Linked DNA regions of Homo sapiens: all the other regions are linked to region 1. The links come from fine-mapping of genetic effects on gene expression. A gene starts in region 1. Each other region holds a variant in brackets. All regions are shown on one strand. Distances are between the middles of the regions.

Region 1 (5,107 bases):
GGAGGGCTACAAGTTAGGTCATCTGGAAGGGGTGACAGAAAACTGGGGTGCAGAGAGGCAGGCAGAGGCATGGAGATTATTCTTTCCAAAAACTATAATAACTCTCTTCCAACCATTATCACACCATTAGCTAACAGGAATTGAGATCTTACCTTGGGCCAGGCAATATGCTATATGTGTTATGTGTTATCTCCTTGGCATGGGGCAGGTAATATGACTACTTCTATTTTATAGAAGAACAATCGCTAACAGAAGTTAAGTGACTTAGGCTGGGTGCAGTGGCTCACGCCCGTAATCCCAACACTTAGAGATGCTGAGGCGGGCAGATCGCTTCAGCTCAAGAGGTCAACATTGCGAAACCACGTCTCTACTAAGAATACAATAATTAACTGGGCGTGGTGGTGTGTGCTTGTAGTCCCAGCTACCTGGAAGGCTGAGGTGGGAGGATGGCTTGAGCCTGGGAGGTTGAGGCTGCAGTGCGCTGTGTTTGTGCCACTGCCTGGGCAACAAAGTGAGACCCTGCCAAAAAAGGAAGGAAGGAAGGAAGGAAGGAAGGAAAGGAGGGAGGGAGGGAGGGAGGGAGGAGACTTGTCTAAAGTCACCCAGAGAAAGAAGGAAATTAAGTGACTTGTCCAAAGTCAACCAGCGAGTTCTGTGGTAGAGCCAGGAGATACACCAAAGTCTGTGCATTTAACCTTACACCATGCTATCCCTACCCTCTTGCCTTCCCCTTCAATGTCAACCTAGAATTCTCTAAAGTTTAAGTGTCACTTATATGTAAACCATTTTGAAGGGTTCCTATGGGATAAGTGGAACAGGCCATTGCTGACTTGATATGATCGTGTTAACCAAGGCTTTTTCAGTGCACTGTATGTGCAAGGCATCATGCTAAACATGTGCATCTTCTTTTAATCTTCACAGTAGGCCTGAGAGAGCAGTGCAATTATTTTCTCTCTAACAAATGAGCAAACTGAAGCACAGGGAGGTTGAGTAATTGGTCTAAGGTCTTATTAGAAATTGACATTTCTAACAGCATTTGGATCTTGGCCAAGAGCTCTAAGATTTAGTCTCTGAGCCATACAAGATTTAGATGAATTGGGAGCCATAACAAGACCCTGCCTTAAAATTTCTCCCCCACTTGCCTGCCCCACAACCTGAAGCAAGGATCCTGTGACCCTCTCTAGCATTTAGGCATTGCTATTTGTTTCCAGGGGACGAGTGATACTGGGAACAGCATGTATTTAGTTCCTTCAAAGTCCTATGCCAGATGATACAAGGCACCCAGAGGTGAGCAAGACCCAGTGCCTGCCCTCCAGAGCTAGAGAGGGGCAGGAAGGGGATAACCAAGGCAGGTGCAATCAACAATAAAAGTGAAGTACCAAAAGCATCTGAGGTCACGCTACTCCCCTGCCTAAAATCATTCGCCAACAGCCATCACCAACAGGACACAGCCTGCTTCCCTCAGCAAGGCAGGTACAGCCACTCCTCCAACATCTGCCCACCTACCTCCTTAGCTTCATCTCTGCCTCATTGTCCCAAATCCTGTGCAATAGCCGTGACATATGACAGGCATCTCCATGTCTCTGCCTGCCTCTCTGTGCCCAGTCTTCTGTCACCCCTTCAATCTGACCTAATTTGTAGCCCTCCTTCAAGACCTACCTTGGTCACATTTGTATTTTTTATTGTCCCCCTCCTTCAGCGTAGTGACTCTACAACACTTTGTCAACCTATTATAACACTTACCCTAAAATGAAATTATTTACAAATTTGTTTCTTCAAAGGCAAGACCAGTGGCTTATTCCTCTTTTGCATGTGGCATGCTCACCCAGCACAGGGACACACCAGGCTCTCAAAGGCTGAAGGAAGCCAGAATACACATCTCTGCACAGTGCCAGGACTCTTGGGCCAGGCTAGCAGCCTGCACTGGGCACTAACTGAAGCCCTTGGGGATAAGTATTTGTAAGTTTGGGAGAAGGAAGACCTTTGGAAGAACCAAAGGCAGACCTGGGCCACCCTCAGTTAAATGGACAACACTAGTCCAGGAAATGATAAGGAAAAAGGCTTTAAGGTTCATCTCCTTCAGAGGTTTGCCTGGGCTGGCCCCATCATGGGTAACTTGTAAAAAATAGGTCGTGATACAATTTTTAAATTATTTTATTTATTTTTTTGAGACAGAGTCTTGCTCTGTCACCCAGGATGGGGTGCAGTGGTGCGATCTTGGCTCACGGCAGCCTCCACCTCTCGGGTTAAAGCGATTCTCCTGCCTCAGCTTCCTAAGTAGTTGGGACTACGGGCGCTCGCCACCACACCCAGCTAATTTTTCTTTTTTCTTTTCTAATTAGAACAGAGTTTTGCTATGTTGGCCGGGCTGGTCCCGAACTCCTGACCTCGGGTTATCCACCTGCCTCGGCCTCCCATAATGCTGGGATTACAGGTGTGAGCCACCGCGCCCGACCACAATATTGTATTTACTGTATTGCATTGTCTGCCTCCCTGCCACACAGCGTCTTCCAGGAGCTTACCAGTCCTCTGTGCATACCCCAGTAAGTAGCTCAGGCAGTGCATGACGCCCTCACCTTTCTCTAGGTATTATTGTATTTTAAAGCATCACTTCATTTAGTCCTCTCAACAACTTTTTTCCCCCCTTCTTCTATTTCACATGTGAGGAAATTGACGTCCCGAGGGTTAAAGCAAGTTACCCCATGACCGGGCTCCATACCCTCCGCGCCCCTTTCCCTGCGCGGTGGCTGTCCCTTCTCGGAGTGCAGAGGCTCCTAGTGCTCCACACTCTCGGGCTCCAAGGCCCCCTAACGCGCCGTGATAAAAATAATAATAACAATAACAACAGTGCTGCTTTATTTGCACAGAAAACAGGTTGTTTCGGGGCAAGGTACACTTGAGAAGGAGGCTAGGAACCGGAGAGAAGCAGCAGGCGGGGGCGGAGGGCGAAGGGAGGGAAGGGGAGAGGGCAGGGGCTGGCAGGCGCTGTGTGCCGGGCGAGGAGGCCGGGGCGGGCCGGGGCGGGGAGCGGGCGAAGCGCCATTGGCCCGAGCACCCGGGACCGGCCCCACCGCACCGCCCGCCGGGGGCGGGGGTAGCGGGGAGGGACTCGCGCACGCCGCTCTGCGTTGACAGTGCCGGGCGACACCCGGGCCGTGCCGCCAGCGTCCGTCGGGAGAGTGAAGGCTCGCAACGCCTTGCCCGGGGGAAGGTAACGCGCCGCGCCCGGGGCTGCGCGGTTTGCACCGCCAGGCCGAGGGCTGGGGGCCAGAAGACAAGAGAGACGGCGAGGCGCGCTCCCTGCCCGGCAGCGACTCGGAGGTGCGCACTCGGGTTCCAGTCTCTACTTGGCCCACTCGCTGTGTTACCTCGGGCAACTTTGTTTCCCTCTCTTGGTCTCTGCTTCCTCCTCTGTTAAGTGAGGGAGGTGGTGTAGAATGTTGTTCCTTAGTCTAACCAGTTCTAAAATGGGAACTGCGTTTTGGCACGGGGAAAGCTCCTTTCCTCAGTTTCCCACCTACTCCAGAGCCACCTCCGCTGCCCAGGCGGCCAGGAAGCTGGGATGCCCGGGTAGGCGAGGGTTCTGCTGAGCTATCGCGTTTTCTAGGGCTTTCAGGGACTGACCTGGGCTTGGGGCTGGGTGCTGGGGAGACCTGGCTGCAGAGTAACTGCCCCCAGATTGCTCAGGTGCAGAAAGGTAGGAGCGTCAGCACCTGTTTACAGGTGGGGTGTTGGGAAGGGCCGGCCAGGGGATGATGATTTCTCCTTTGAAAATAAGACGTGTTTTGGAATTCTCTTCCATACCCACACCTCGTCCCACGGCGAGCTATAAACTACACGAGTGGGCTTTATCATCCTTTGAAGTGGAAAAGCGACTGTTTTTAGCGTCTAAGACACAGGGCTCCACCAGCATATAGGAAGTGGGTCTCTCTTTCTCTGCACCCATCCTGCCGCGTCTTCCCTTTCTTTCCTCCTCTCTTTATAAATCCCCTTTGACCTTGAGGGGCTCCACTTCCTGCCTTAATGAAAAGTTCTTCTTTTCATTTAGTGCTGGTTTGTGACCAGCAGCCTCCAGGGCTTTGGGCGCAGGGTTGAGATAGAAGCCTAGATAAGAACAGGCTATGAATCACCCTGTCAGCCCCCTGAGCCACACAGCCCGGCAGGGATGTGCAGAGGAAGCCCGGTGGGGCTTCAGACAGATAGACCCTGGAAGGTGGGGTGGATGCAAACTGCCATCCAGCTTCCCGTCCCCTTGTTGGCAGCCATTCCCCACCAGGATGGTGACCCCTGCTGTCTGCTGGATGGAGCAGCCAGATAGAGTAGGATGATTGAAAGGAGCTGAGGACTTGGCTGGATTTCTATGGAAGGTCTCCAGCATTTCCCTTCCCTCACTTTCCTCCACCCCTGAAGTTCTGCCCCTTCTCACCCTTAGTGTGGTATCCAGGTGAAATCAGATTGCAGAACCCATCAAGAGCAGCTAGGAAGGAGAAGAGGTGTGGGGACGGCAGCAGGGCAATGTTGACTGCTGTTTAGTGGGCACTTACTATGGGCCAGACACTTCTTTGTATGTAATATATCCTTAATTCTCACAAAGCCACATGAGGGGTGATGTACTATACCCTATTTTATAGGTGAGAAACAGGCTCAGAAAGATTGCTTCCTTTAGTCACTTAGCTAGGAAGTAGCATAGCTGGAATTCAAATCCAATCTCTGATTCTAAAACCTGTGTTCTTTACACTGTCTTTGTGCTCCTTAAGTAAGAGCAAGCTGGAATAAGGAGAGCAAAAATGTCTAACATTGTGTTCTCACCAGGTGTCAGGCACTATGCAAAACATCTTAGAGCTATTATGTCATTTATGGTGCAGGAGTTTCCGTTATTCTGGAGGTAATCTGTGACTGCCTTAGCCTCTCAGCAGCAGTACTGTTCTAGAAGGCCTACCCTAATCCTGCCCAGCTGCTAGTGCGTGGGTGGGGCAGGGCCCTGTTTGCTTTATCCTAGAGGTGGTTTGGGGTCTAATGAAAGATTGATTGTCCACATCTGACCCGTTAGCCCTAACCGTTGGCTGGTGAATGATTCCACTGTCCCCTAAGAGGCCTTTTTCAGGTT
Region 2 (5,107 bases), 92 kb after region 1:
ATCAAATGGTATAGTCATGATTTTAATTTAGGTTTATATACTCTAACCTAAATTATTATTTTAAAGCAAACTGCAGTGGGGGTGGGGTGAAAAATGAAGAGAAACCTACTATAAGGGTACTGTAATTTTGGGGAGCAAGCTAACACATTTGACTTGCGGCTGAGCTCTTAACTAAGCAATACCTCAGTATGCTCCTTTGGGAAAAATTAAAGGTTCAGTAGTCAAATACTTTTGGAAATGCTGGGCCATTATGCACAGAGAAGGTCCGCAGTAAGGAACATTTTAAATTTGAACAGAGAACATCCAAATCTAATTCATCTTAGAATCCATTTGCTATGGAATGTACTAGGCAGAACTGGAATGTATTTCAGGAAATTATTGTCTAGAGAAGTGGTTCTTAAATTAATTGATTCCTTAATCGAATCACTCATTGATTCAGCAAATATTTTGAAGTGTTTATTTCCAGCCACTGTTCTAGGCACTGAGAATACAGCAGTAATAAATGTCAGTACTTAAGCTTATTCATGATGCAGCCATTCCTTTTATAAAATAACGGCATTAGTAAATGATAGAGGCCTCCCTCCCGCAACTTTAAAATGCCTTACTAAAATAAAAATTTGACTATCCCATGTTATTTCCCAACATTTCATTGGAAATTATACTAGATCATGAAACCCAGAAAGTCTACAACCTTTGATCTGGAGAATGCACTCATATGTGTACCCAATTATACACAGATGTTAAACATCTGAATCCTGCCTTCCACGGTTTTGAATTAATTTTATTAATGCTCCTAGAAGTATTTCATGGCTGTCTTCAAAAGCTAGAATGTTAAATGGGAAGAGTCAATGTCTGGCATAGGACAAATCATATGTCTAAAATAGGAGTAAACAACTAAGAGATCACATTTCTATTAATGTGGTAATCTTGTTTTTGTAGGGTTTACGTTTGCAAATATTTCTTGACCAGGAAAATTATGTTTAAGAGCATATTAATAGTGGAGAAATTTTATTTTCTTCTGTGAAATAAGTGCTTCTTAAAGTAGAAACTCATAGCATAATGTCTCTTTTCAGCCTACCATTTCTATGTCCATATGTTAGAGGATTTTTTTTTTTTTTGGTATTGTGCAGTGTTCATCGATTTTGTTTTATAACAGGTTCAGAAGAAGAACCCAGTCCTGTTTTGAAAACTTTGGAAAGGAGTGCCGCTAGGAAAATGCCTTCCAAAAGTCTAGAAGACATTTCATCAGATTCATCAAGTGAGAATAAAGTTCGCCTCACTGTTCATGCCCCATCTAAGCTTAAAAATGCCTATGTGCTCTCCTGTAGCCTCACTGCGTGCTGTTGTGCACTGCACCCTCTAATGGGGGCAGTTAACAGATGAAAATAACCTCTCCAAAGTGCGCTGAAGAGGCTCAACCTAAAGTGGCTGGAACTTTGCTTATAAAATAATATATTACATTTGGTTACTAAAACACTAGGTTTCCTTTAATTGAAGAATCCCAGTTTGAGTGTTTCTCAAGTACAGTGAGTTTCAAAGGATAGTGGTAGCTAGTAGTATTAGTGAAAATAGTCATAACTAGCATTTATTGAATATTATTTGCCAAAACGTGCCTAACAATTTTACATGTATTATCTCATTTAACCAGCACAAGCAACCCTATGAGAGGTGAATTATTGTTATCCAAATTTAAAGATGAGGAAAATGAAGCTCAGAAATGTGAAATGACCTTTTTAGTATTACACGGAAGATCTGGGACTCAAAATTAACAGGCTATTATCAAGAACATTTATGAAGGGACCACATTATATATGACAGCGTTGGATGTCCAGTGAATTTTGCATGATACGGAGTTGAATTAGTCCCTGGCTTCAAGGACTTTCCTTTCTCTTTTATCCCTTCTATTCTGTTCACACTTTTCTTCTAGATACTGGAACTATAAGCCCAAAACTACTTAACATGAAAGACTTTAGGTACACGATTCCCCACTGGCAGCTGCTTTAATGGTGAAGGATTTCTTGAGTACTAGCAGAAAACATAATATATAAAGAGAGTTGTGTGCTAGACAAATGGACTAAGAAACCATGATTTCTTGGGGTTTTGTTCTTGCTATTTTCAAGCTAAAATGCACCCCTGGGATTGCAGATGGTCATAAGAAAAATTATCAAGTGAAAAGTTAACCACTGCCAAACTCATATGATTGAAAATTGGCCATTGTTATGTTTAGAATATTTTTTGTGCATTTGCAATTAAGAATAAAAAGTCAGAATTTAAAAATGAAAAAAAGAAAAGAAAAAGCCACTTCACCAAACATTTCCTAAAATTCACAGATTCCCAGGGGTTTGAAGACAGTATTCCCAATTTGGAATGTAGTCCTGACTATCCCAAGGATCTTGGAATCTCAGGGTTAGAAGGGATCTTAAAAATCACCCATTTTAACCTCCCCTCAATGCAGGAATTCTCTCTAAAGCCTCCTCAACAGGCGGCCAACCCCCATATCCGCCTGAATGCTTCCAGAGAAGGCGAGTCGAATCCTTTGTTGGACAGCCCTGATTGTTTTTCCTGATGTTGGTGATGGGCCTTGAGAAAAAGAAAAAAAGAAAAAAAAAATCTCAGAACAATTGGCCCATTTAGCAAACCTCTTGCCTGTGAAACATGGGGCTATTTCCATGGTGCAGCTTTAAAGTACTCAGGAATGTATAGGGTTAAAAAAAAATCACCATCAGCTGACGGGTATTCCTGCACGCTCCCTTCCAAATAC[T/C]GATACCCACTCTCACACTAGCCTGCCAAGATTCCACTTAGCAGCTGGTCCCCAGTTACATCTCTTCAGTTGACTTCCCAAGCAAGCCTCCCAGAGGCATATGTGAATGATGATGCACACACACAAATATTTGTTAATGACCATGGGTTTGGGAAGGTGTTAGTCATGGCTAGCATCATACCCTTTACAGAAGAATAGAGAGGCTGTTGCAGCCCCGTGCTTTCTCCTGCTGCTGGCCGATTGCTTGCTCTGAACTAACCCTCTAACCCTTGGGAGTCTGTGTGCAGCAGTGATGTGAGCTGCATCCGGGCTGAAATGGGAGCTCCCGCTATGGCACTGGCTCAAGGAGCTAATCTAAAGAGAAAGTATTTTGGGGAAGACATCTTGGTTGCACCCCTCATTGCATCTTGACTAATTGCTTCCAACTCCGGGGGCTTCCAGGGACAATCTCATTGTTCTTTTCTCTCCAAGGGTCAGCCATGTTAACCATTTGTTAATTTCTTCTGAACAGATCAAGCAAAAGTAGATAATCAGCCAGAAGAATTAGTGCGTAGTGCTGAAGATGGTAAATATCTTTATGTATTTGCGTGTCTGTCTTTGTATTAACTTCTGGGGTGATTTGGGCAGTCTCCGGGACGCAGCTGTTGGGTAAACAGAAGAACGTCATTTGCCACTATGTGGTGAATAGTGCCTAAGTTACTATAAAACAGTTCTGATTTGGTACATTTAATATAGTTTGTATTCTTAAGGCTTCTTCTGGTGATACTGTCATGAGGATCTCATCAGAGACCCTTGTGAAGCAAGGGTTTCTATAAATAGAAAATTGTATTTCTTTGGATGTGAGCTGATTTTTGCTACTCTGACTTGCAGAACTCTTTGTAAAGGCAGGAAGAGTGGAGTGAATTCCTGGGTTAAGTTATTCTTCTGTTTGATTCTCAAGTCTCAGCATTTAGATCTCTCTGGGCACAACTGGTAAAATCTTAAATTCAAAGGAAAGAGTCCCAGAACAAGGGTGGGAAATCGTGCCTCTGCTTATATAAATAACTAAATATAGACAGAGGGTGAAGTTGATTCTGAATATAATGGAGCCAGAAGATCTTGAAGCTTGTCAGTGGATCAGGTATTACTTGGCTCTGTTATAAGATGAATAGTATAGTGGTGCCTTGGTTGAGGGAGAGACAGAAATGAGTCTGATTTTTATATTGCAGAATTTATGCAAATGTATAATTTGTATTTGCATGCTGGATTTTATTTACTTGTTGTTAAATTTGCCTTCACTATAATCATAAAAATGTGTACTCACTGAGCTTTCCCATATAAATGCAGCAACAGAGCTCCTTAAAGGTCATTCTTTACTTTTATGTAATCGTTCTGTCTTTCTTATTTTATGTTTACAACAACCTCACTGAAGTTGATGGGGCAGGGATTTTTATCTTCATTTTGCTGATAAGAAAAACTCAGAGAAATTAGGTGACTTTTCTAAGATCCTATAGTTAGTCAGTCACTGGGAGGGCAGGAAATAGAATCTCAGCTTCATTACTCCTAGTCCAGTGCTCCTTCCCATTTTCCATACTGTGGTCTAGTGAATTACAGGAAGGATGCTCCGTATCTCTTTTGTTTGATCCCAGATTTTTAGTTGAACAGGAGACCTTAAAGAGGCTAATGAAGAAGAGTCACAGTGAGGAATGGATGAAAGCAAGATGAAAACCTGTCAGATGTATTCTGCTGTCTCAGTTGTGAAACTGACATTTGAGCTTTACTTTCATGTCTCTTTAATCCTTCTGTTAAAATGGTATTTATTCTCAATGTTGCCCTCCTGAGTAGATGAGAAACCAGATCAGAAGCCAGTTACAAATGAATGCGTACCAAGAAGTGAGTAGCAGGATCTTTCTCACAAATGACTAAACATTCCACTTTACATATTAAATATACTGAAATAACTAACCCCATTAATAACACAGTATTTATTATTGGCACTAAACTCCTGCAGCTTGCAAAGCTATTTCATTACGATAAGGGTTTTATTGAAAACATTTTACTATTGTCTGTGTTGAAAGAATGATTTGTGGTTCCACTGAGGGAGAGTTGTATATTAAATATATATATATATGTTATTGCTGATATTATTGTGCTTTTGTCAGTCTCTATGCTGTTTGAATCTCTGCTTAAAAGCAAGTTGGCACCTTCTGATTTCATTTGGTTTTTATGTTGCAGTATGATTTTGAGTATTGGATCTCTTGTGGCCTCTGTACGAAACTGTAGATGTGAATTCATTTATAACTTATTTGGACCTATGAAAGAACTGTTAGAGTATGTGCTTCTCTCCATATCCATAAAAGCAAATCT
Region 3 (5,107 bases), 31 kb after region 1:
TATATACCATCAAGAACAAGGGTGTTAGGATATATGAAGAACCAGAGTTCTATATATAAAAATCAAAGTGTTTTATATGGTTTGGCTATGTCCCCACCGAAATATCATCTTGAATTGTAGTTCCCATAATCCCCACCTGTTGTGGGAGGGACTTGATGGGAGGTAATTGAATCATGGGGGTGGTTACCTCTATGCTGCTATTCTAGTGATAGTGAGTGAGTTCTCACGAGATCTGATGGCTTTATAAGGGGCTTTCCCCCTTTTGCTTGGCACTTCTCCTTGCTGCCACCATGTAAAAAAGGACATGTTTGCTTCCCCTTCTGTCATGATCGTAAGTTTCCCGAGGCCTCCCCAGCCACATGGAACTGTAAGTCCATTAAACCTTTTTCCTTTATAAGTTACCCAGTCTCGGGTATGTCTTTATTAGCAGCATAAGAATGGACTAATACAGTGATTTGGTACTGGGAGTGGGTTGCTGCTGTAAAGATATCCAAAAATGTGGAAGCGGCTTTGGAACTGTGTAACAGACAGAGGTTGGAACAGTTTGGAGGGCTCTGAAGAAGAAAGGAAAATGTGAGAAAGTTTGGAACTTCCTAGAGACTTGTTGAATGGTTTTGACCAAAATGCTGATATTGATGTGGACAACGAAGTCCAGATTGAGGTGGTCTCAGATGGAGATGAAGAACTTGTTGGGAACTGGAGCAAAGCTCATCATGCTTTGGTAAAGAGACTGGTGGCATTTTGCCCCTGTCTTAGAGATTTGAACTAGAGAGAGATGAAACTTTGAACTTGAGAGAGATGATTAGGATATCTGTAAGAAGAAATTTCTAAGCGGTAAAGTGTTCAAGATGTGACCTGAATGCTGTTAAAAGCATTCAGTTTTATGTATTCACAAAGATATGGTTTGGAATTGGAACTTACGTTTAAAAAAGAAGCAGAGCATAAAAGTTTGGAGAATTTGCAGCCTGACTGTGTGACAGAAAAGAAAAAACCATTTTCTGGAGAGAAATTCAAGCTGGCTGCATACATTTGCATAAGTAATGAGGAACCAAATGTTAATCAGCAAGACAATGGGGAAAATGTCTCCAGGGCATGTCAGAGACCTTCACAGCAGCCCCCCCACCCATCACAGGTCTGGAGGCCTAGGAAGGGAAAATGGTTTCCTGGGCTGGGTCCAGGGCCCCCCTGCTGTGTGCAGCCTCTAGGACTTGTTGGTGCCCTCCATCCCAGCTACTCCAGCCATGGCTTAAAGAGACCAAGGTACAGCTCAAGTTGTTACTTCAGAGGTTGTAAGCCCCAAGCCTTGGCAGCTTCCACATGGTTTTGAGCCTACCAGTGCACAGAAGTCAAGAATTGACGTTTGGGAACGTCCACCTAGATTTCAGAGGATGTGTGGAAATGCCTGATGTCTAGGCAGAAGTTTTCTGCAGGGGTGGGACTCTCATGGAGAACCTCTGCTAGGGCAGTGCAGAAGGGAACTGTGGGGTTGGAGACCCCACACCCAGTCCCCACTGGGGCACTGCCTAGTGGAGCTGTGAGAAGAGGGCTACTATCCTCCAGACCCCAGAATGGTAGATCCACCAACACTTGCACTGTGTGCCTGGAAAAGCTGTAGACACTCAATGCCAGCCTGTGAAAGCAGTTGGGAGGGGGTGCTGTATCCTACAAAGCCACAGGGGTGGAGTTGCGCAAGGCTGTGGGAGCCAACCTTTTGCATCAGCATGACCTAGATATGAGACATGGAGATCTCAAAGGAGATCATTTTGGAGCTTTAAGATTTGACTGCCCTACTGGATTTTGGACTTGCCTGGGGCCTGTTGCCCCTTCATTTCTGCCAACTTTTCCCATTTAGAATGGGTGTATTTACCCAATGCCTGTACCCTCATTGTATCCAGGAAGTAATTAACTTCCTTTTGATTTTACAGGCTCATAAGTATAAGGGACTTGGTTTGTCTCAGATGAGTCTTTGAACTGTGGGCTTCTGAGTTAATGCTGAAATGAGTTAAGAATTTGTGGGACTGTTGGGAGGGCATAACTGGTTTTGAAATGTGAGGACATGAGATTTTGGAGGGGCCAGGGCAGAATGATATGGTTTGGCTGTGTCCCCACCCTAATCTCATCTTGAATTGTAGTTCTCATAATCCCTGTGTGCTGTGGGAGGGACTTGGTGGGAGGTAATTGAATCATGGGGGTGATTACCCCCATGCCGCTGTTCTAGTGACAGTGAGTCAGTTCTTACAAGATCTGATGGTTTTATAAGGGGCTTTTTCCCCTTTTGCTTAGCACTTCTCCTTGCTGCTACCATGTGAAGAAGGATGTGTTTGCTTCCCCTTCTGTCATGATTGTAAGTTTCCTGAGGCCTCCCCAGCCATGCTGAACTTTGAGTCAATTAAACCTCTTTCCTTTATAAATTACCCAGTCTTAGGTATGTCTTCATTAGCAGCATTGGAATGGACTACTGCAGTGTTCTTCCTATTCTCTACTCACCACAGCGCAGAACACTTCTGTACCCCAGATGTGCAGGGGTTTTCCCCACACATACCAAGCAAGCAATCAGTTCTACAGCAAACACCAGCTGGGTATCCTCTAATTCAATTCAATTCTGACATTGCCTAACTGAAGATAGCATCAGATCTCACAGGCTGA[G/A]GGCCCAGTCCCACAAGACTGTCCCTAATTCAGATGCCAATCGCAAGTAATAGGTTGTCACCTATATTTCTGATTGACTGACTGTAAATTGGATTTCTCACTACTCCTTTTTTTGGGTTTGACTAATTCACTAGAATGTTACAGAACTCAGAGAAAAACTTTACTTGTATTTACCAGTTTATTATAAAGGATATTGCAAAGGATATGGATGAACAGCCAGATAGAAGAAATGCATAGGGCAAAGTATGGGAGAAGGGGCATGGAGCTTCCATGTGTTCAGCTAACAAGAAGCTCTTCAAACCCAATCCCTTTGGGATTTTATGGCAGCTTCGTTACATAGGCGTGACTGATTAAACCAATGGACACAGTGATTAGCTTAACCTTTGTGCTGGCAGGGACCTCTCTTCTCCCCAGAGACTGGGGCTTTGGACTGAAAAGTTTAATCATGCTTTAGTCTTTATTGTGACCAGCCCCCATTCTGAAGCTACCTAGTGGCTGCCAGCCACCAGTTATCACCTTAGCATACAAAAGACACTCTTATCACTCCAGAGATTCCAAGGGTTTTAGGAGCTATGTACCAGGAAAAGAGAACAAAGATATTTCACAATATCACAGAGAGACATTTCATTTGGTGGAAAATTATCCTACTCTTTAGATGAGCATAAGCACTATTGAAAGAATGACTGTTGCTTGCTTGACTACAGACTTTGGGATGGTTTTACTCTGGGCTTTGAAATGCAATAAGAGGTATAGGGCCATAGTTCATTGTAGACAAATTCTGCTGTGGCCTGAATTGTCTTCTTTCACCAGTGTGAGTCACAGCATTTTATCGTCAGAAGGAGTCTATGTGAGAGATCATCCTTTTTAGTTCCCTCACTTTGCAGATGAGGAGATAGAAGCTTCAGAAGGTTAAGTGACTTGCCCAGCATCACATAGCAAGAGAGAGAGACTGAGCTGGGAGCAAAGTTGACCTTGCCTAATCCCTGGACAGTGTTCTTTCTCTAGTACACACCAGTTTTCTAAAATCATGGCCCCTCTCTTCAGTGAGATGTACCTAACAAGTCTTCTCACACAGTATGTCCTTAGGAAGTATTTACTGATTGATCTTTGTTGATTAAAAATTTATAAAATGACTGTTTTTCTTCTTCTGAAACTGAAGATTGTTTTACCTAAATATTTTCAGTTTTCCATGATAGTGTGACCTTTTTTAAGTCCTACTTCTGCTAGGGAAAAAAAAAAACACTTGATGAGTTTTATCTGTTCCATATGTTTATAGCTTTTGAAATGAACATTTGAAATTCCATTATGTCAGTTTGTAGATAGTAACTTATATCTATAATATATCCATATATACACATATCTATACACAACATAGTAATTAAGAGCACATATGGAGGTGAAATTATTCTGCTTCTCTGAACCCAGTTCCTCTTTTGTGAAATAGGAATGATAATGACACTTTCCTTACAGTGTTGGACTGAGGATTTGGGGAGATAGCCCGTGTAAGTGTTCCAGACTGGTGGCTCTTCATAGAAATAATAGCAATAGCAATAACTTCACATGTAATCCTGCTGTCCCCCTCCCAATAAACAACCACATCTGAACCAAAATACCCTTGTTAGAACACTCTTCTATGGCAAAGGGATGCCTTATTTTACTACCTGGGGATGAGGATCCTGGTTTTATCATCACTTAGCAGCCACCGAGCCTAATTTTCTATGTAATAATAGGTCAAGAGGTTTTCACGATTTCATAAATTGGTTGCAAATGACTGAGAACTAAATGTATAGTAGTTTTTATGTATATAGATGTATATGTTATATAATATATATAGTATAGTACACTACAGAATATATAGATTCTATATTTTGTTTTTATTTTATTCATGTATTTGTTTCTTGAGACAAGGTCTGGCTCTATCACCCAGGCTTGAGTGCAGTGGGGCAATCTCCTCTCACCGCAACCTCTGCCTCCCAGTCTCAAGCCATTCTCCCACCTCAGCCTCTCAAGTAGCTGGGACTACTTGGCATGCACCACTACACCTAGCTAATTTTTGTATTTTCTGTAGAGATAGGGTTTTGCCACGTGGCCCAGGCTGGTCTCAAACTTGTGAGCTTAAGTGATCCGCCTGACTCAGCCTCCCAAAGTGCTGGGATTACAAGTGTGAGCCACTGCACGCCCAGCCTTATTTTAAATAGATAGTGCATGCATGTGTCTATGCTACTCCTCTTCACTAAGCTTAGACATTGTTAGGCACTTGCTCAAGGATAAGTCTTCAAGACTTCAGTGGTGCATGTCTACAGGTCTTGCTGCCTTCTGTTGAGTTGCTCAAGATGCCAGAATGGCTGAAAAGATGCTAGAACTGGTTCTGCTTTCTAACTTGGGAGCTCTGCTTCTCTTTGGTCACTGCATTCACTCTGCAATTAGTACCGGGTACTGTTGTGATGGAAAAGACGGTTTA
Region 4 (5,107 bases), 360 kb after region 1:
GATGGAGTAGCAACAATATTTTAAAATTCCTAAGTGAGCTCACAAATAAGTAAAGGAAGTCTGTGGGGGCCAAAAAAGAAGATGAGTTGGAAATAGAATTGTAGGTGGTTGCTGATATCATAGCTATCTAGAGGGCATTTGCTAATTATGGTAATCCTGTTTTAATGACCAGGCAGTGGAGGAGAAAAAGCCTAGTATATACACAGATGTGAAGATATCTCTGAGAACCCACATAAAGCCAGAAATTAACTCTATGATTAATATGAGGGTAGAGGTGAAAAAAAATGTCTCCCTGTCAAATAACGAAGATAAGCAAGACAACTTGGCAAGAAGGTATGTGTTAGCCTGGGCTCTCATAGAAAACAATAGAAATATCTGCTCTGAAAATTGATAACCACAAAGGCTGCCCTGATATCGCTTTCAAGTTAAAATTTATGTCATTTTTTTTTAAAACGGAGTTTCACTCTTGTTGCCCAGGCTGGAGTGCAGTGGTGCGATCTTGGCTCACCATGCAACCTCTGCCTCCTGGGTTCAAGCGATTCTCCTTTCTCAGCCTCCCAAGTAGCTGGGATTACAGGCATGCACCATCATGCCCGGCTAATTTTGTATTTTTAATAGAGACAGGATTTCTCCATGTTGGTCAGGCTGGTCTCGAACTCCCGACCTCAGGTGATCCACCCACCTTGGCCTTGCAAAGTGCTGGGATTACAGGCGTGACCCACTGTGCCTAGTCAAAATTTACGTCATTTTTGTAGTCTGAGCAGTCTAGAGCTAAAAAAAAAAAAAAACTTTAGGTAGTTCCAATTCGAAAGCACTCAGGTGATTGGCAGAAGCAAATGCATATCATCTTTCACTGAATGTAGCTTCAACCCAGGCTTCATGGAGTTACCTAAAAACAGCTTTAATAAAACATAAATTGAGAATGAAAACTACAAAATACATGAGAAATAAATCACTATAAGTGAGACTTACCAGAAAATATCACTAAACACTTCATATAATGTTTAAAATGTTTAAATAAAGCATGTACTCTCTAATATAAGAAAGGAATAAGATATAATTAAAAAGAAGGGGCAGAATAGGAAATAAAAATTACAAAATAGACCTCCTAAAAATGAAAATTATAATAACTAAAAAGTAGATGGTTAAAAAGAAGATTATACAAAAGAAAATTATAAATTAATGAAATAAAGGATAGAGTTAAAGAAATTATCACAAAGAGGTGAAAAACATAAAAGAGTGGTTAAAAGACATGGACATTAGAATGACAAGAGCTGATATCACCCATTGGAGTTCCAGAAGAGACTAGAATTAATGTGGCAGAAGCAATTTTTAAGTCCTGGATGAAAAATTTCCAGAATTGATGGAAGACATAATTCTCTGTTTCAGGAAGCATAAAAATTCTAACCAAGGAAAATAAATAGAAAAAGGAAAGGAAAAAAATTAATAAGCCAAGTATCCAATTTAACATGTTAGAAAAAGGACAGAATAAATTCAATAAAATGGAAAAAAGGAAATAATAGAGAAGATACTGATTGAACAAACAAAACACAGAATAAAGAGGATCAATAATGACTGAGTTTCATTTGATAAGATTAACGTAAACAACTTCTGCCATGTTTGACTTAAAAGAGAGTGGAAGGAAGAGGAGGAGGGAGAGGGAGAGAGAAGCATAAATAAGCACAGTCAGAAATGAAGAATGGGAACTACTTTAAATATATTAGTGTTTGATAGGCTCAAAGGAAAGGAAGGAGCAAGGCTATGTGTAAATGCTTTAGATGTGGATGTGGCAATGGACTTGTTTCCTTGGAAGCAATAAAGATAAGATAGATGTTGAATATTGGGTCCCCAAACCCTTATCTGAAGGTATTTCCTGGATCCTAAATAGAGGCTACTTCTCTGTGTCAAAGTGACTTAGAATCTCCAGACAAGAGTGGGATATTTCATTTTTACTGAGAGAATTTCAGAAGCAAAGTCTCTGATTGTCTTTGATTTTATAGAACAAAGTTTTTCAGTAAGAAAGCAGTAGGCATTCAAAGAAAGGGGTTGTGATGATACTTTATAATGGCAGCATATCCTTGGGTGAAATAGTGTTTCCTTTTAACTTTCCAGCCAGCTTTATCTGGGCCTATTATTCCAGCCTGATGAATGTCAGGGCAGATTTTTGGTGTCTGAATTTATTTTTACTTTCTCACCCCAAATCTTATCTCAAGGTCTCTGCTCATTATTTGAATGCTCAAGGAGAATTGAGGCAATTCCAGAATACTGAATGTAGTGTTTTAAAAATGAATAGTTTCCAGGAAATGGTAAACTTAATGTTGTTTCTTAGCAATAGTCTAGTTTAGATTAGAAATTCATTGATATCCTTTTCTGATAGGGCTTTTTAGATTGCTAAAGCAGGAAAATTATTCCTCATGAAAACATTGTAAGGTACTTTCAAGTATAAAAATCGCTTTAATTTGGATTATTTCATTTGAGTCAAACTATGAGTTTCTTAATTTTCATATTAGCAATCGAGGC[T/C]AAGAAATGCTAAATAACTTGCCCAGAGTCAGCTAGCTACTGAGATTTAACTGTCTGTAAGGTCAACGATCTGTCCATTGCTCTAAGCTGCCTCCAAGTTCAGAGAATTCCTAGAATTATTAGACTTTTGGGAAAACATTTTCAAAGAGATTGGTTAAGATCAGTTTGGGAAACAATTGCCTTTTCTGTCTATCTCATCCCTCTCAAATTTATTGATGTACAAGTCTAATTTCAGTTAAAGTTCCAAAATAAAAATACTTATGGTTTCTTTGCTTTCTTGGGATTTGACCTTTTCATAATTTTTTTTTCAGAAATTTTAAGCTTCAAATTTTTACTTTAATGTTTAGGGTAATGACTGAGGGAACACAAATAAATCATGAAATATGTATTAGTTTTCTAGAGCTGCCATAATAAATATCACAAATTCAATTGTTTAAAGAGCAAAAATTTATTTTCTCACAATTCTTGAAGCTAATATTCCAAGATCAAGGTGGTTGGCAATGGTTGGCAAGGTTGGTTTCTTTGGGACCTCTCTCCTTGGCTTGCAGATGGCTATCTTCCCCTTGTATTGTCATATGGTCTTCCTTCTGTATCTGTGTCCTAATCTTCTCCTTTTCTTATAAAGTCACCAGTCATATTGGATTAGGTTCCACCCTAATTACCTCATTTAACTTGATTTCCTCTTTAAAGACCCCATCTCTAAATATAGTCACATTCTGAAGTACTGGGAGTTAGAATTTCAACATATTAGTTTGGGCAGGGGGCAGGGGAGACACAATTCAGTCCATAACAAATGTGTTTTTCATCATAGTATTCTTGGAGTCTGTCAATGTTTCTAGAATTTAGTATTTGTTAAATAAAGAAGTGAAAGCTAGATTATCAGTATGGGTGAAGTTTGAAGACTTAAAGTGAAAATTGTAAGATTAGTTATACAACTAGTCAATTAAATGGCAGATTAGAACTTCTGTACAGTTGGTCTTTAATTTATAATGGTTCTATTTATGATTTTTTGACTTTACAATGGAATATTTTCAACTTATGACCAATGCACACTGTGTTGCCTTTCTCTTTTTAAATAACGTAAAATTGCCGTGATTCATTAGACTAAAAGATTTTATTCAAATGGCAGAATGTATTTATTGTCTTTGATATACAAAGCTTTTTCTTAGAAGTTTTTCATTTTAAAACAAATTTACATTCTAAATTTTAAAATATTATATATCAATATATAAACACACACACACACACACACACACACACACACATATACTATATCCCTTCAAACTGGAGTTGTCACTGAGTAATATTTCTTTTAAGGTAGCTCCAGTTAGGACACAATGGAGATAGCATGGGCTTTAGAATAAGATGCATCTGTGGTTGTATGATTCACGCTACATAATTTTAGTTATTTAAGCCTTAATGAACCTATAAAATGTGAAAAATAGTATTTTATCTTAAATAGTTGTAGCAAGGATTAAATAAGATGTTTATAAAGTGCCTAGAACATTTACCTGATCGATATTTACTAAACAAATGGAAGCTATTATTTTAAGTGATTATTAACAAATTTATTTTCATAAGAATTACAAAGCAGTATGTCTTTGTTATCTTATTACAAGAATTGTTATTTGAAAAAGAATATAAACAACATTTTATGGCCTTCAAAGTAAAATCTAACTAATTTCTCTTAGAAATCTATAACAAAACCATTTCCTCCAATGGCAACAAATGGCACTGTTATTCTTGTGCTAATTGATAGGGCTTATTCTAGATTTGATCTTTCAACATGATTAGATTGTACATTTTGTAGAGGCATGTTAAATCTATCAGACTTAAAATCCCTAATGAAGTTAAAAGACCTTTAAATGTTCTCAAATACTTTGTCCTTAATGTGTCTCACTTTGAAACAACTCAAAACACCATACCAACATTTTATTTTTCAGGTAGATTAATTTAGGGTCTGATGGTTTGTAAGGTAAAATTTGCTCTTTTACTTAAAGAGGAAGGGATCTTTTAACAAACAAAGCCACAAGTTGTAAACAATGGGTTTTAGAGTCAGCAGACATATTTGTGGCTTTGGGCAAGTTGTTTAATATCTCTGTGCCTAAAATTTCTCATCTGTAGATTAGAGGCAGTGTACATAATATATAGAGCAATGTGTGAGTAATGGATGGAAAGCCTCCATGGTTTCCTCCATCAATGGTTTCATCAATCCCAAAATTTTTATAGAGTGCCCACTGTGTTAGGTTCTAAAAAAGGAAATTGTGTGTTTAAAAGAAAAAATAAAAATTAAAACTCTATACCACTTTTAGGAATGTGTCTCTTTTTAAATGAGGTGTGCCTGTTCTGATTAGTGCTTTCAATCTTTTTGTTTTTTTGAGACGGAGTTTCACTCTCGTTGCCCAGGCTGGACAGGAGTGGTGCAACCTCGGCTCACTGCAACCTCCACCTCCCAGGTTCAGGCGATTCTCCTGCCTCAGCCTCCTGAGTAGCTGGGATTACAGGCGCAGGCCATGATGCACAGCTAATTTTTTGCATTTTTCAGTAGAGACGGGGTTTCACCATGTTGACCAGGCTGGTCTCAAAC
Region 5 (5,107 bases), 100 kb after region 1:
ATCTGGGTTTGTGTATCAGAGATGCCAGAATTAAGCTCTATCATTTTGCATGGGGTATAGGGTTGAACTAGGTATTAAAGAAAGTGGAAATGCAATCAGGCCTTGCTCATCTGTTCCCTTTGAGACTTATCATCAGTCACATTTGTTGAGTGCCAGTTACATGTAAAACACCATTCCAGATCAACAAGGCAGAGTCCTATCCTTCCAATAATTCACTAATGATCTGATATACTAGGTAGAATGCAGTAGGCGCTAAAATAGAGGGAAATGACTATCAGCATGTGGGGAGAGAGTGTGACAACAGAGACATTTAAAAGATATGAATTTTTTTAATCCTTGAGAAAGGATTCTTATCCACGTAAAGCATTAATTTTGCTTTCCTTTAACTCCTTTATTAATCTGCATTACAATTGGCATCCATTATATTGATGCATAATTGCATGGTCCTGGAATATGCTGGCATGAACTAACTACTCCATAAAGGTGTCCCTTAACCCCTGGTGCCACTGAACTGTTCCATAAGCTCTCTAACCCTAAAAGGAGCTCACTCTGAATCATAAATTTTTAAAGCTACTATTTAATAAACTTTAGATTCAAATATAACAAAATTTGTTACTGTCACTTTTCTTTCTTGTCCCAGGTAAATACTTCCTCGGACATATTTAAAATAAATACCTGTATTTTACTTCTTTTTAAAAAATGTGTTAAAATCTAATGTGGGTAGAATGTATAATTTAATATACTTAACTCTAGGAACAAAAAGATAAGCATAATAACACAGGAATATGTAAGGGGAAGTTTAAAAATTTTAAACATTAAAAAATATATATATATGGCCTTGAGTTGAAACAGATGAGACTAGCATTTCTTTTTTCCTAGTTTAATAGTGTGTCAAGTAAAAGATTTGATTTTTAGAGAAGTTAGGGGCTGTGCTAATAAGAGGAATTAAACATGATGTTTTGGTTTTAACAGTAAATCTTTTTATTATCTGGGTAAAGTTAATTTCTCATATATACCAATAGAGTTCCCCAGGCAAATAAATATATAATATTAAAAGACTGGCAAGAAAGCTCACAATAGTGCTGTCTTCTGCAGCACTTTGGGAAAGACTACTTTGTAGGTGAAAAGAAATCACTTCGTTATTTTGGTAGCTAAGCACTGCCTTCCTCCTTAGGTGAGGTCAAGGCAGACCACCCACTCCATCCTGAATCCCATACCCTGGCAATTAGCACTAGCATCCTTTGACCTTGCGTAAATGTCAGTGGAATACCAAAATCTCATCTTTGCCTAAACAGAGATTCTGATCTTGACTCATTCTGAATTTAAATATTGTGCATATTATATGCTGTTTTGTAGAGTGATGACAGAGAAACAGATACAGCATCAGAAAGCAGTTACCAGCTCAGCAGACACAAGAAGAGCCCGAGCTCTTTAACCAATCTTAGCAGCTCCTCTGGCATGACGTCCTTGTCTTCTGTATGTAAACAAAGGCTCCATATTAATATCTCTCCGCGTCTCTGAACCTTGCTCTGACATGCTCATGCTCATTGTAAAACAGCCTCCTCCTGTATTTCTCAGGGCACAAACAGTTTCTCTAATCCATAATTAGCTTCTGGCTAGCTACATCTATCTTTTTTTTTTTAGACTAACGGGGTTCATATCCATCATAAACAAATCTTTGTGGGGTTTTTTGTTGTTGTTGATGTAAGTACTTCACAAATAAACTTAAATTGCCAAGAAGATGAACCACTAAATTTTTCTGTGCAACAAATGGGGTAACTATGATAAAATCTGCTTGTATCAGATATGCTTTTATATATGATTTGCAGGCATAGAATTGAACCTCTCTTTTAGTAATCCTGAGCAATCAATATACTGGTTGACATGAAAGAATATGAGAGGTAATTCCTTGCCTTTTAGAAGGCATCTGAGCAGCATTTTAAAAGGAAATATCCTTAAGTGTAGTTACTCAGATTTGATTTAAGGGAATCTAACTAATTTGACTTTACATAGAACTTCTTGCATAAGGTGAAGTTGTATGTGCATGTAGTATGTATGTAAAAATATATGTAAATATATCCACATACACTTATCTGAGTATCAGATGTGCATACACATACATATATTCACCCAAGTATGCTGAAGAAATGATAAAACTGTGCTTAAATTCTTGCTAGCCTTGTGTTTCTGAAACCTTTTTTAAAAACCTATTTAAATTGAGTTTCTGCTGATAAAAATCTAACATCTGCCTTTGGGAAGGTTTTAAACTCCCTTCATCAATCATCCATTTTCTACCCTTCCTGACCTCTAAAAGCGCATGGCTCAGTAAGCATTTTTCTAGATTCAGTGGATGGGTAACATGGTAAAATTCCTTTTTAGTGCCTTGGAAATTCGATACAGCAGTGTGTCACTATGATTAGAGTGTCTGGGTTTTCTCACATCTTCTTTCTTTTGGATTTTAAATATTAAGCATGCC[A/T]GAAAATGGATGCCTTTGAATGCCACCTAGCATAAAATCACCCTGCTTTGAAATGAGCCAGCATCTAAATAACATTGCATTTCACTTTTCATCTATGTCTTATAGGGAAAATTATTTAAAAACATTAGTCGGCTGGGCGCGGTGGCTCATGCCTGTAATTCCAGCACTTTGGGAGGCCGAGGTGGGCAGATTACTTGAGGTCAGGAGTTTGAGACCAGCCTGGCTAACCTGGTGAAACCCCATCTCTACTAAAAATATAAAAATTAGCTGGGCATGGTGGCGTGCGCCTGTAATCCCAGCTGCTTGGGAAGCTGAGTCAGGAGAATCGCCTGAACCTGGGAGGTGGAGGTTGCAGTGAGCCGAGATCAAGCCACTGCACTCCATCCTGGGCAACAGAGTGAGACTCTGTCTCAAAAACAAAATGAAACAAAAAACTCTAGTCATGTATATCATGTCAGGTTGTCTTTATAGATATGTCTTTATGCTATATTGAATTAACTGCTTTTATAAGCAAGCTAAAGAAATAATGCCAGCAGGGATTATATCCATGATCCTTGTGCTAGGTTTAAGAATGAGATAGAGACAAACACTATGTATTTCTGATGCTTTCAGGTGAGTGGCAGTGTGATGAGTGTTTATAGTGGAGACTTTGGCAATCTGGAAGTTAAAGGAAATATTCAGTTTGCAATTGAATATGTGGAGTCACTGAAGGAGTTGCATGTTTTTGTGGCCCAGTGTAAGGACTTAGCAGCAGCGGATGTAAAAAAACAGCGTTCAGACCCGTAAGTACATTTTAGAGTCACCTACCTTCTCTTAGTTCTCCAACTGTCAATCTTACAGGAATTGGAAGGAAATAAAGTAATCAAGAGGAGGGAGGGTATGTGTTAAGAGGAATGTTTGAAAAGTTGGGGGGAAATGCTGTTTTATTCTATAAATTCATATGTCAAACATTAAATTATAAAAATCACAGAGAAAGGCCGGGCACGGTGGCTCACGCCTGTAATCCCAGCACTTTGGGAGGCCGAGGCGGGCGGATCACAAGGTCAGGAGATCGAGACCATCCTGGCTAACATGGTGAAACCCCATCTCTACTAAAAATACAAAAAATTAGCTGGGCGTGGTGGCGGGCGCCTGTAGTCCCAGCTACTCGGGAGGCTGAGGCAGGAGAATGGCGAGGAGGCGGAGCTTGCAGTGAGCTGAGATCGGGCCACTGCACTCCAGCCTGGGCGACAGAGTGAGACTCCATCTCAAAAAAAAAAAAAAAAAAAAAAAAAATCACAGAGAAGCACAAAATGTTTCAACTTGGAAAGAACCTTTGGGGTCATCTTGTTCAGTTCCTTCATTTTACAGATAAGAACGCAAGGACCAGAGAAGACAAGTAACCCATATATGTGAATTCAGATAGAAGCAAAATGAGGAATGAGGACCTGAACCCATCTCTTTCCACCACACTCTCAAACTTTTTACAAAATTAGGGATACATGGGACACACTTCATAAAGCTCAGTGGTATAAAAATAGTTAAGACTCTAGAATGAGAGAATTTTCATATTTAAATTATATCTTACAGAACTTTAGGGGAAATTACTAAAATTATTGTTTTAAATCACAGGTTTAATTGCACTTCAGTTTTTTTTCTTTTTTTGCAAACGCTGAATGGTATTCCCTACTTATCCCTATACAGAAGTCTGATTCTTAATTATTTTGCTGAGACAAGTGCAATCCTTTTTTCTTTTATTCTTATTATAAAAACAACTGAGCTCAACATCCTTTATTTTTTTAACATTGAAGATAACTTGACTAGGTATTTACTAAGATTAATTTATTTCAAAAGACGGTAACAAAAACTTAAAAATACTGCAAGCACCAAAGCGTTTTCTCAGAGGGGAACAAACTAGGGGAACAAACAGATTTAAGCTCTATGCTGAAAGTGTGTTTTCTTTTTTTCTTTTTTTTTTTTGAGGTGGAGTTTCACTGTTGTTGCCCAGGCTGGCACGATCTCAGCTCACAGCAACCTTCGCCTCCCGGGTTCAAGCGATTCTCCTGCCTCAGCCTCCTGACTAGCTGGAATTACAGGCATGCATCACCACACCCAGCTAACTTTGTAGCTCTGTGTGTGTGTGTGTGTGTGTGTGTGGTTTTTTTTTTTTTTTTTTTGAGACCAGCCTGGCTCATGGGGTTTTTCCATGTTGGTCAGGCTGGTCTTGAACTCCCGACCTCAGGTGATCTGCTCACCTTGGCCTCCCAGAGTGCTGGGATTACAGGTGTGAGCCACCGTGCCTGGCCTGGAAGTGTGTTTTCTGCCCCTTTCCACCCCTGCATATTAGTTAAGGCCAAAGGAAAAAAGGAATGCAGGAAATGCCCGTTAAAAATCTTCAAAACAATATAAAATGATCAATTCCACTAAAACCCTTTACACATTTAAGTATAAAGGTATTGGTAGGAAAATTTGTTATTCACTGCTTTTCTCAGTGTCATGAAATAATTATTTCTGCTGTCAGTTTTCAATGTATTTAAAAAACTAGAGGTGGAAACATAACTTTTATTTTCTTTGACTTTGTCTGTTCAATTCTCCTTTTCAGATATGTAAAGGCCTATTTGCTACCAGACAAAGGCAAAATGGGCAAGAAGA

Direction of the effects. Alleles are on the strand shown, and positions count from the first base shown. SD is a standard deviation of normalised expression in the study named. Not every link is listed here.
With allele C in place of T in region 2, the expression in tibial nerve of the gene that starts at base 3,134 in region 1 is higher (small effect, 0.30 SD a copy in GTEx).

Evidence for each region. PIP is the estimated chance that this variant, and not a neighbour inherited with it, causes the effect.
Region 2: its variant is fine-mapped to the expression of SYTL2 in tibial nerve (GTEx, PIP above 0.99).
Region 3: its variant is fine-mapped to the expression of SYTL2 in whole blood (INTERVAL, PIP 0.96).
Region 4: its variant is fine-mapped to the expression of SYTL2 in whole blood (TOPMed, PIP 0.92).
Region 5: its variant is fine-mapped to the expression of SYTL2 in blood mononuclear cells (TOPMed, PIP above 0.99).

What each region holds. Positions count from the first base shown.
Region 1 is chr11:85,809,168-85,814,274 of GRCh38, reverse strand. It overlaps SYTL2 (synaptotagmin like 2), which reads left to right and starts at 3,134. Exons shown (of 20, transcript NM_206927.4): 1 at 3,134-3,321. RefSeq lists a silencer at 2,996-3,175.
Region 2 is chr11:85,717,009-85,722,115 of GRCh38, reverse strand. SYTL2 (synaptotagmin like 2) reads left to right here. Exons shown (of 20, transcript NM_206927.4): 9 at 1,157-1,258; 10 at 3,273-3,326; 11 at 4,586-4,633. Among named protein-coding and RNA genes, the nearest start is that of CCDC89, 33 kb to the right of the region's middle. The variant T/C (reference allele first, on the strand shown) is at 2,762.
Region 3 is chr11:85,778,417-85,783,523 of GRCh38, reverse strand. All of the region lies in intron 1 of SYTL2 (synaptotagmin like 2), which reads left to right. Among named protein-coding and RNA genes, the nearest start is that of SYTL2, 30 kb to the left of the region's middle. The variant G/A (reference allele first, on the strand shown) is at 2,647.
Region 4 is chr11:85,445,472-85,450,578 of GRCh38, reverse strand. The region is part of intron 3 of DLG2 (discs large MAGUK scaffold protein 2); the gene reads left to right. Among named protein-coding and RNA genes, the nearest start is that of DLG2, 180 kb to the left of the region's middle. The variant T/C (reference allele first, on the strand shown) is at 2,521.
Region 5 is chr11:85,707,482-85,712,588 of GRCh38, reverse strand. SYTL2 (synaptotagmin like 2) reads left to right here. Exons shown (of 20, transcript NM_206927.4): 13 at 1,357-1,476; 14 at 3,089-3,258; 15 at 5,058-5,107. Among named protein-coding and RNA genes, the nearest start is that of CCDC89, 24 kb to the right of the region's middle. The variant A/T (reference allele first, on the strand shown) is at 2,477.